Homo sapiens: one gene and its partners. The protein of the gene in region 3 purifies or fractionates together with the protein of the main gene of each other region. This does not show direct contact. Each region holds a gene or a part of one and is shown on either strand. Other genes may lie near its edges. The genes, in order: POP4, GRAMD1B and PCDHGB4.

What was found.
Region 1: the proteins of PCDHGB4 (region 3) and POP4 purify together in Homo sapiens (affinity purification with mass spectrometry; 2 studies listed by BioGRID and IntAct, with this or other methods). This does not show direct contact.
Region 2: the proteins of PCDHGB4 (region 3) and GRAMD1B purify together in Homo sapiens (affinity purification with mass spectrometry; 2 studies listed by BioGRID and IntAct, with this or other methods). This does not show direct contact.

Annotation. Positions count from the first base shown.
Region 1 is NC_000019.10:29,609,195-29,612,942, reverse strand, and holds part of POP4 (ribonuclease P protein subunit p29), read right to left. Parts: intron 2,535-3,748; coding exon 2,311-2,534; intron 1,082-2,310; coding exon 1,004-1,081; intron 827-1,003; coding exon 765-826; intron 1-764. UniProt on the Homo sapiens protein: Component of ribonuclease P, a ribonucleoprotein complex that generates mature tRNA molecules by cleaving their 5'-ends.
Region 2 is NC_000011.10:123,428,534-123,432,281, forward strand, and holds the start of GRAMD1B (protein Aster-B), read left to right. Parts: upstream 1-1,735; 5' UTR 1,736-2,259; coding exon 2,260-2,633; exon of another isoform or gene 2,634-2,681; intron 2,682-3,748. UniProt on the Homo sapiens protein: Cholesterol transporter that mediates non-vesicular transport of cholesterol from the plasma membrane (PM) to the endoplasmic reticulum (ER).
Region 3 is NC_000005.10:141,390,660-141,394,407, reverse strand, and holds part of PCDHGB4 (protocadherin gamma-B4 isoform 1 precursor), read right to left. Parts: intron 1,776-3,748; exon of another isoform or gene 1,595-1,775; coding exon of another isoform or gene 1-1,594. Other genes in the region: PCDHGA8 (protocadherin gamma-A8 isoform 1 precursor), read right to left, coding at 1-1,594. UniProt on the Homo sapiens protein: Potential calcium-dependent cell-adhesion protein. May be involved in the establishment and maintenance of specific neuronal connections in the brain.

The DNA of each region.
Region 1 (3,748 bases), on a different chromosome or scaffold from region 3:
CGCTGCCAGAAGACTTGAAGCAGGGAAGGAACGTGCTCTGATTTCTACGTAACCGGCACTCTGGCTGCCTGGTGCGGTGAGGAGCTGTGTCTGAGGTAATCTGGGGAATGACAGTGGCTGAATTTAAGTAGTAGGATGTTCCGAAGGATTCGAGGAGATTAGGAAAGAAGAAACATAGACACTGTTTAGGTTTTTGGTCTGAACAACCAGTGTAAATAACTGAGTAATTAACTGAGATGGAAAAGACCAGGAGGGGTTGCTGTGAGGAGAATCGGTGGCAGCTTTGGCTATGTAAAGTCTGAGATGCCCCCTGAACATCCAGGTGGCTATGTCAAGTGGGCAGCTGGATGCCTGAGCCTGGAGTTCAGGGGACAGGCCTACGCTGGAGATGTCACCTTGGGGGCTGTCAGGTGTAGCTGACATTTGAAACCACAGCATTGGATGAAAGGGATTCTGTGTTCAAGATCCCAGGCCGTGGGTGAGTGCTCGCAGCCACTGTGCCCTTTAGGGTACCAACAGGGGTCCCTGTGTGGAGAAGGTACACAGAGACCACTTAGGGTGTGTCCAGCAAATGGCCGGACTGGCTAAGACAGCCAGCGAGAAGCATCTCCCACCCTTAGCGTGGGGATGATGGTGACTGGGGGCCATCTCAGGGAATCCACACGGTAAAGAGTGTGTCCAACAGAACACACGCCCTGGGTCTCCACAGAGTGACAGAGTGAACCTCTGGATGGCCATGTGCTACACGCTCTTAGGTAAATTACCTGAAATAATAGCCCCGTGAAGATCTGCCTTTAAGAGCTTGGCCTGAATCATCTGTGGCTGCCTGCAGGGTAAACAGAAGCCCTTGGTTTACATCATGATAAAAAGTTCCAAAAGAAGCAACTAGGTCTTTAACCGTCTGCAGCCAGGCAATACCAACGCTGGTTCCTGAAGCCGCATTTACAATGATCAGAGGCTTGAGATCCACCCCAAAGAGCAAAGCTTCAGGAATGCAACTTACGTGTCTGGCTTGAGCCCACTGCACAGGTCCCTGATGTACTGTTTCCAGAGTTCATGGAGAGGGAGGAAAAGGCTGTATCTGCAGCAAAGTCAGAAACAGGGAAAAAGTTAGACAACATGAGCTTGGGATGACAATGTCCAAATAGCACAGAGCTTGACTTGATGCCAACAACTGCAACCTGGGATCATTAGGAACTATGTGCAAATCCGACGATGAGCAATTGAGCTGATAACCGAGACCAAGAACCTACACCTCTCTAACCTCAGTTTCCTCATTGGTAGGACCACACCAGCCCAGGGCGGTGTCCACCTGGACTTCTTTTCATGAGAGAGAAATAAACGTGAGTCTTGTTGAAGCTACTGTTATTTTGAGGTTTTCTGTTACGTGAAATTGAACCTAGTAAGCCCCCAGTAAAGCAGGGGTTGCTGGTTGTCACGCAGGTCCTCATGTGAGGCAGCAGGCTGGTCTGGAAGGTGGGCAAGCAAGTGGTGGGGAGAAGAAGCGGGGAGCAGGGGCAAGGACCCCAACAGCGTTCTTCTGGGCCATTATCTCCAGTCTTGATATCCTGTGGGGAATCCGTTACCACAAAGCCTTAGGTTAGAGAAATGAGGACCTTAAGCTCAAACCCAACCTGGGCTCCACCCGGGAGGCAAACCCTGGGAGGCAGCAGCCCCTTCTCCACCTGAGGCCCAGCTGATCTCCTGAGTGGGGCCGGGAACAGCATGGCATACTTTAAGCGTCTTCTGGAGCGTGGGAGGCTATTTGGCCGTTGATCTCCAAGCAAAAGCCTACAGACAGCCCCAAGACACCCACACTCAGACCCGTCACCAAGGAGGGATGGCGGGTCGGCTGGAGGAAGACATCCTCCCACAGGACAGGACAGTGATGCATTCCTTTTGGAAACTTCTGAAACGTGTGGGCAACATCTTGCTTTGGCAATGAAACCCGAGTGGGTGACTGTCTGGCTCTATCAAAAGCTACAAAGTAATACACACTAAAAACATATCAGTTCCTCTTTTCTGTCTAACAAAGCCGAAGGACAAACAGCCTGTTGCCATGGGCAACAGATGTACTTGCACGGGTCTTACTCCTGAAGGTGAGGAGAGAGGCCAGACAATGAGTCCTGTCTCACCCGCCTCGCTGAACACAGCCCAGATTGGTAAAGGAAGGCTGCCCTCTTGTGGCAGACGACAGAGAGGCCCCCTTAGCTTAGGTGGAGCCAGGCTGCCTCCCCAGCCACTCAGCCAAGTTCACACACCAAGAAGGGTAAGCACCGCGGGCAGAAAGACGTGGGGAGCTCGGGTTACCTCTGCTGCTCTGGTTTAATGTCAAAGAGCCGCAGCTCCCTCCTTTGCCTGGCAGAGAGGCCTTTGGCTTTCTTCTTCTTCTCCTTGCGCTTGTGGCGGGTGAAGTACTCCAGGACCACCGCCTTGCGCTGCAGCTGGTCCTCGCGGGCCTGCGGGCTCATGCGGGGCGTGCTGCGCTTCAGGAAGGCCCTCACGAAGGCCTCGGCCCGCTGTGCTCCTGAAGGCTGCAGGCGGACAAGGGGGTGCGGCGCTCACTGCTCCGGTCTGGGCAGCCCAGGATCCCAGGCATCCCGCCCGCCATTCCCGGCAGCTACTGCAAGAGCAAATGGGGCCCATCCCTTTACCTACTGAGGCTCTCAACCTGCTCATCCGCCATGCATCTGCTACCCACAGCTGCCGAGATGTAAGTCACACTCACACACCAATTCATGACCGTTTGTCACACACAACAGCGTGTCAAACGCTCACTTCCTGCTCTGGCCCTGCTTTTCTGAGGTTATTCTGAAAGGACCAAAACCTTTCTATCTTGAAGAAGAATTCTCTCATCCTTGGCAGAAGAGAAAGCTTGAGAAATGTATAACAAATATATTCAACCAGGCATGACCAGATGAAAGTGAGCTCAGAGTAGCACTAAGCTATGGAGGAAGTGATCCTAACACTACAGAAAACAGCAAAACTAGGGCTCCAGGGTCGGCCAAGCCTCAGGGCGCAGGGACCCTGACACTGTGCCCTTAGGACAATACTCCTTAACCGGGTTTCCAGCTCTGTGGGCATGGTGTGGCCACTCTCCAAAAGGTCCGCTCCCGCCCCGCAGACCATCACTTGGAGGAAGGTACCGTCGAGAGCATCTCAGGCCCCAGGCTCGCTCTCTCTGAAGGGTGTCACTGAGAGCAGGGCGTCAACTTACCATGAATGAGCACAGGCTCTTAGAGAGGACTTCTGGGAAAAATGACTGTCGTAATTGTGTGCAATTCTCAAACAAACAAACAAACAAACAAACAAACAAAGAAACCCTCCAAGCTCACTACCTCTCAGGTTGGAGTTCCAATAACGGATTCCTCATTTGGTGGCAATGCCACTGCCCTCATGCCTGCCACAGACCTGGGCAGTTCTCTCTCCTGAGGGCCTGTCTCCTGGCTGGGCTGTTTCCTGAGCTCTTTTTGCACTAGCCAGGTGCTAAATGCTAAGACTGAGGCTGACAGACTGATGCTGATCTGTCAATAGTAACGCAGCCTTCCTTCTGTGGGAGAGCAATGGGGATGGGAAGATAGGGTACATATAGCCTTCGAGGGAGCTCACAGTATGATGGTGGGAACTCTGCTTCAGCTTTGCACCTGTAGATGCTAACTAAAAATTAATTCACTCTCGTCATTGTGACTATAATAGGACAATGATCTGATTCTCTTAAATACCTGAGTGGCTCATCTTTCATGGAGAA
Region 2 (3,748 bases), on a different chromosome or scaffold from region 3:
TGAGGAAGAAATATTTCCCTTGGTTTCCCAGCCTCTCAAAAGTTGTGTAATGTCAGGATGCCTTGAGCTTTTCCATACTTGACAAGTGTCATTGCAGAGCTTGGTAGATCCATAGCCAGCTGTCATCCTTGATGTCTTGCTGAACTGCAGGGATGTATTTACTTGCAGTGAATTCTTGTGATCTTTAGGGATGTGAATTTTCCTCAGCTTCGGGACACTTGTGAAATGTGACTTTTGTCCTGGCACGGAAGCTGGGCATTGGCTCCCAGATGGAAACTGGACTCTGAGAGAGGCAGAAAAGAAGGGTGGATCAGATTGTGGACTTCATGGTATGTTCTTGGGTGCTTCTCATGATCTCTTTGAAAGTTACTGACCAGGCTGGGCATGGTGGCTCATGCCTGTAATCTCAGCACTTTGGGAGGCCAAGGTGGGCAGATCACTTGAGGCCAGGAGTTTGAGACCAGCCTGGGCAATATAGCAAGACCTCATATCGACAAAAAGAAATAAAACTTAGCTGCGTGTGGTGGTGCGCACCTGTACTCCCAGCTACTCAGGAGGCTCAGCTGGGAGGACAGCTTGAGCCCAGGAATTCAAGGTTGCGGTGAGCCATGACTGCACCACTGCACTCCAGCCTGGGCAACAGAGTGAGACTTTGTCTCTTAAAAACAAAACAAAACAAAACAGTTACTGACCCAAGAGACAAATGCATTGGGCTGGGGTTGAAGGAGGAGAATGGCTGCTACAGCCCTGCTCTAGGAGCTGGGCTGGGTTAGACTCAGTGCCCACAGAGAGCACCTAAATAGGATGGATCGGTTCTAGGGTTGATGATCTCTTAGGGCCTGGGTCTAGAGAGTGAGTGTGGTTCAGCACATCTTGGGATGCTACCAGGACTGAACCAGACTTCCTAGGTTCCATGACATGGGGACATACTGGATTCTGTGACTCAGTCCATGGCAGGCTGAAGCAGAACTGAATCAGCCCTCAGCAATGTAAGGGGGGGTACCCTCGACTCCCTGGGGCTCTGTTGGATGCATTGCTTTGTGGGTGCTCACCGACTCCTCATTTCATTCTTTGCTAGGGACGCGGCTATGGTACTGGCAGCTGGCTCATGTACAGGGTTCAGGCCCCATTTTCCTTACTGGTCCTGTGTCCTTTGTCTCTCAGACCCTGTTGTCTGTCTTTCCTTGGTATGTCATGTCTGGTATCCTCAGCTCACGCCGCCACGGGAGAACTGTCCTCTTCTCAGCTTGTCATTTTGGAAGCAGCCTCCAGCAACCTTGCTTTCCTCCTCTGACTATACTCCGGCCTGCAGTGCCACTACTCACGCCCCCAAATAATTTAAACTGCCTTTCTTAGGAGACAAGAGCTAGTTGAAAAGTCTCCTCATTTTCCTTCAACCCTGTATCATGGGTGGCCTGAGAGAGTGAGGACTGAATTCATTGACTCCCCTTTCTCTGCACCCCCCACCCCCAAGGAAATAGCCGAGTTCGACTAATGGGAGTTGCCTGGCCAATCGTTGCCCTGAGAAAGTTTGGTTTGTGATCCTATTTCAGTAGGCTGATTGGAGCAGCCTTTACTTGGAGGTCGAGTCCCTCCCCGAGGGAATCCGTGTACAGTTACACTAGCGGTCGCTGCCAGTGCTAGCCCATTCAGGATAGCCCCCCTCACCCCGCCCCCAGCCCCCGCTCCTCCTCCTCCTTTTTTGTTTTTATCCAGTGTCTCGCTTCCTCTCTCTCTCTCTCTCTCTGTCTCTCTCTCCCTTTCCCTCCTACCACTGCCTCTTCCTCCCGCTCTCTACCTCCCTGCAGCGCCAAGCCGGCTCCCCAACCTGGTCTGCTGAACGCAAACCGCTGAGAGTTTGCTGCACCGCCCCCTGGGGCCCCTGGCTGCCGAGTCCCGCTAAGGCAAAGACGCCAGCAAGCGAGGAAGCGCAGCGGAAGAAAAACAAGCGGGCGCGCGAGGGGAGCCCCAGGAGGGCTGCCGAGTGGCTGGCAGGCGGCTCCCGCCCCTCCCGGGTGGCCTCGCCGGCGGCTGACGGCCCGGAGGACGCGCGCTCCGAAAAGTTAGACTCCGGGCGGCGGCGCGCTACGCCGCGTCCCCTCGCGTCCCTTCCTCGCTGCGCTCCGGGAAAGGAACTTGTTCCTTCGGCCCCAGGATTGGGGAGTGTGCCGCGGGGCCGAGGGTGGGGAACAGCCAGAGGGAGACGCGAACCAGGCCGCTGGCGGAGGGCTCAGGGGGAGCGCAGAGGCGACGGCCCCCATGCCGGCGGCCAACATGATGGAGAACCGGCCGCTGCCCGCCCTGCAGGTGCCCGAGCCGCAGGGTGCGCCCGAGGGCAGCCCGGTCTGGTCCAGTTCGTCGACCCCCACGCTTCGCCGCCGGCGCTTCAAGATGCGCCGCATGAAGAACGTACAGGAGCAGAGCCTGGAGGCCGGGCTGGCCCGGGACCTGCCCGCCGTCTTGGCCCCCGGCAAGGAGTTCCTGCAGCTGCCGTCCATCGAGATCACGCCCTCCAGCGACGAGGACACCCCGTGGTCCAACTGCTCCACACCCAGCGCGTCCCCGCGCCGAAAACGCTTCCTCCTCCGCAAGTGGCTGAGGGTGAGGGAGCGGAAGGAGTGCAGTGAAAGCAGGTACGTCCCCGTTCCGCCCGTCTCCTTCCCTTCCCTCCCGTCCTCTCCAGAGCCGTCCAGGGCCCCGGGGCATTCTGGGGGAAACGTCCTGGGGGAGAACAGGAGCCCGTCACCAGAGGCGCTTCTGGAGGGCGCTGCGCCTGGTCCCAGGGATGGTGGCATTCAGCTTCCACGCGTGCCACCCGCTCCCCAACTCAGGGTGAGGGGCTTCATGTTGCACGACACGTTTACGTGGGGCTTTACGCTGCATTCCATCTCCCTTGATCCTCGCAGCGAAATAAATAATAAAAATAATAACAGCTAATAGTTATTGAGCCCTTACCATGTGCGGGCCACTATGTTGCGCACTTCATGTACCTCCAGATTTCATCCCTACGCAAACTCTCTGAGGTAGGTATTACTATGGCTCCCTTTCTACAGAAGGAGATAGTAAAAGGCCAGAGAACAGTTAAGTGGTTTATATTTCAGGACTCCGTTTCAATCTTATTTTATGTTTGGCCACACCGGATTGCCTTAACTGGCTCACTTGTGTGGAAGTGAAATATTGACATTGAGTGAGTCACATTTCCTACCATATCAGAGTCTTTAGACATCGATACCTACAAGACTGTGGTTTGTACCAGCTAGTTTTTTGCCTAGGTCAATGTGGCATCTGGGTAATGGGAGAAGGTTGAGCTTCCCTCACGTAGAGAATTGCTGCAGGGCGCCCTAGAGCAGCTCTACACAGCCCTGGTCAGGACTGCTGCTTCAGGAAGTTGTGTCTGAGCCAAGCCCCTTGCCTGGTGGAGGGCAGGGAGTCCTCACTTGTTCATCGGTACCACGAATCCTACATATTTACTTTGAGACTTTAGGGTCCTGTCTCTTAATGGATTTGTGTTCTTGTGCGGAGCAACTGAGTCATTGATCACTTTCCCTGGAATTCCTTCTCCAAATCTGTTCAATTACATTGATTTCAATTCAGTAAGTACTTACTGAATATTTCTGTGAGCTCAGTCTAGTAACAGCTAATAGTGGTGATGTTGAGGAGGGTGTGGGGGAAGGATAGGTAGAGTAAGGGGTTGTAGAGGCTGAGAAGGAAGATGAGGGGAGGCTTGTATAAGAAATGAACACCTGGG
Region 3 (3,748 bases):
CCAGTAGCTGCAGGTCTCGGATCTGCTCATAGTCGAAAGATTGCAGCGCATACAGGACACCGGTGTCAGAGTTGATGGAGATATACGAGGACAGGGGCGCCCCCTGCAGCGTGTCCTCGGTCACAGAGTAAGTGACCTGGGCATTCTCCTGGCTGTCGGGGTCGTGTGCAGTCAAGGAAAAGATGGAGGCTCCTCTCAGGTTGTTCTCTAGGATATACGCTGAGTAGGAGGCATGAGGGAAAGTAGGAGGGTTGTCGTTAATGTCTGCCACGTGCAGAGCGATTTGAGTTTCAGTGGACAGAGGTGGTGTTCCTAGATCTGAGGCCATCACTGTGATATTGTAGATAGAGACATTTTCTCGGTCCAAATATTTCCTTGTCACTAATCTATAATAATTACCTATTGACTTTTCTAATTTAAAAGGTAAATTATCACGTGTGTAACAGACAACTTGACCATTCTTTCCAGAGTCTTGGTCATGCACACTCAAGAAGGCAATTACTGTCCCGGGAAGAGAATTTTCTAACACTGGGCTAAACAAAGACGTAATGATCACTTCTGGTCTATTGTCATTTACATCTTCCACCGAAATGAGCAATTTGGTCCTCCCCAGAAGTGCCCCCACATCTTCGGCTTGTATTTCCATTTCATAAAATGAACATTCTTCATAATCTAGACTTTTTGCTATTGATATTTCCCCAGTATTTTCATTAAGCTGGAATAACGGAGTTTGTTTTTCATTAATTTTCCGGAATTTGTATGCCACTTTTCCGTTGATTCCCTCATCCGGGTCGCTGGCTGTTACAGTAAGCAGCCGCGTGCCTGGGGGCATGTTCTCAAGGACTTTCACTCGGTAAATCGGGTGAGGAAAAACCGGGGCATTGTCATTTGTATCCAACACTGTCACGTGGATGCGCACTGTGCTAGAGCGAGGCGGCTTGCCGCCATCCGAGGCCGTGAGGACCAGGTGGTGAGCAGCCTCTTCCTCCCTGTCCAGGGCGCGCTCCAGCACCAGCTCTGGGTTTATGGCTCCATTGTCTCCAGTCTGCACGTCCAGGGAGAAGTGGTGATTGGGGCTGAGCTGGTAGCTCTGGAGGGAGTTCACGCCCACATCCGGGTCAACAGCTTCTGGGAGTGGATAACGTGCTCCAGGAACCGCGATTTCGTTAATTTTTACTTCTAGATCTTCGACCTGGAATTTTGGGTTATTATCGTTAATATCAATTATTTCTATTTCTACCCCAAAGAGTTTTCCTTTATCCTCAACCAGGGTGTTAATATTTATCAGACACCGCGGGCTCTGAGCGCAGAGCTCCTCCCGATCTATCCTGCCCGCGGTGATCAAGCTGCCGCTGCGCGGGTTCAGAGCAAAGAGCTGCGTCCTACCTCTGGAGACGATACGGACTCCGTGCTTCGCCAGCTTCCGGGGGTCCAGCCCCAGGTCCTTGGAGATATTACCCACGAAGGAGCCTTTGTCCGTCTCTTCTGGCACAGAGTAGCGAATCTGTCCCCTCCCGATTTCCCACAGCGTTCCCAGCAGCGCGCACAGCAGGATCAGCTCGCCGCGTCTGGGGCGACTCTGTGGAGCGGCCATTGTTGTTTTGCTGCAGAATCCTCTCAGAATCTTCACTGTGCATAAATGGGTCTTATTTAGTTTCTTGCCGCAGCTATGGAGATGACAATCCTCCGGAAACCTGGAGTGCCTCCAAACAGGGGTCGGGTTTCGCTGCAGTCCAGCAGTTAGTTTGTGGCATCTGCGGGTCTTCGTGAGGTGTGAGATCTGAGTGTTTTCGGTTGCATTTGTCTTCCAGTAGGTGAACAGCGGCGCTTACAGTCCTAAATAGTTACTGCACTGAGATACAGATTACTTCTAAATGTAATACTCTACTAGATTACTGAGAAAAAAAAATCATTTGCTTATTACTTTGTTTTGAATTTATTTGATTTATCCGTAAACCCATATTTTAAAAGAAACAGCCAAAGAATGTGAGATGAAGGTTTTATTTAGTGTTATTAAATGATCAGATTAGATCAGAATGATCAGATTGTAGCATCGGATTAAATTACTCACATTTCTGCAATACATTTGGTCTTAAAAAAAACATGATACTTTCATTTCCCATTGTGCTCTAAGCTTTATTGTAAATGTCTCCAATATATACTAACAAATAACTAAGAACTTCAGTTGTCACCAGAAATGAATTTATCTTGAGACTAAAATAGACCTACTGGAGATGACTGACTCAGAAATTGTTTTATTTGGTTTAAACTACTTAATCATTTTACAAGCTTTCTATAGAGTTGTTGCTTTTAAATTATTCTTCTAAATGCCACTTGAATTACATGTCGATAATATTTTCAAATAAAAATTGTGGAATTTCAATAGGATAAATGCTTTTACCATTGCAGTTTTATGAGATATTACATTGTTTTGCTATTTTATTTACATTGTTTATATTTTTCTATTTGAATACTTGAAAGGTACAGATGAATATATGATAAAAAGCAAAGCTCCATCCCATCCCTTTCACCAAAGAGATGATTAAATTTAAAGCAGACTTGACTTTTACATATATTCTAAAATTAACTTTACCTACATTAACACTTTGATCTAAAAAACTGCAAAAAGTAATGACTATATAATACTTACTAAGAAGCCAAAGGATAAGTATGACTACAAAAAAGTCTGTTTCCCTTCAAGACCAGCCTGGGCAACGTAGCAGATGAACTTATTTCACCCTTCCTTTGAAGACTGGTATGATAGTTTTTTCACTGACTAAAACTTTCTTAAAACCACTCATGAAATCTGAAAACTTTATATTTTCCTGTGAATATATTTTCTTATGCATATGGAAAACTGGGTAGACAATGGAAACCATACCAGTTAAATTAGTGAAAGAAAATATTTTCTCTACTGAAAACAGAAAAATTAGCCAGGTCTGGTGGCATGAGCCTGAGTTCCAGCTAGTCAGGAGGCTGATGCAGAAGGAATGCTTGAGCCCAGGAGTTTGAGGCTGGAGGGAGCTATCATTGTGCCACTGCACTACAGCCTGAGTAACAGACAGAGACTCTGTCTCAAAAAAAAAAAAAGAAAAAAAAAAGAATCGAAAGACGTTTCCTTCTTTCAGCAATTTGTAAAGTGGCCATTAACTGAAGCAGTTGCTTAGATATACCTAGCAAAAGGCTCATATAATGTTCCTTGGTATTTTGTATATATTTTGTATGCACACCAGATTGGCAGTTTTCAAGACTATATTTCTTTCCTAGAGGTAGGAGAATGATTAGAAGACCTCTAGCTATATTAGTTTAGGGCTGCAGATAAGGCAGTTACACATTATATATTAGGGCTGTGTGTGAGAGGGACAACAGACACAAAACATTGTCTTTTCTTTGATGAAGGATATAGAATGAGCTTGAATACAGATTAATCCTGAAACTCCTATGTTACAAGTAAGGAGAATCTGCTTTTGATCTTCTAATGAGCATAGTAGACCTTTTTCTAAGTAAAAGGATCTCTCTCACACACACACACACACACACGCACACACAGCGTACACTGCATATAATCACAAGGGGTCCATGGACATAAAAATCCAGTTGACTCCTTATTCTAAGAGCTTTTGAAACAAAAGGGAAGTTAACACAGGAAACAAAACAGTGGACTACTATGGAGACCATACCAGTTAAATTAGTTAAGAAAAGTGTTGAATTTTAGCTTAAATTCTTTGGCTTTATTATTTTTATATTT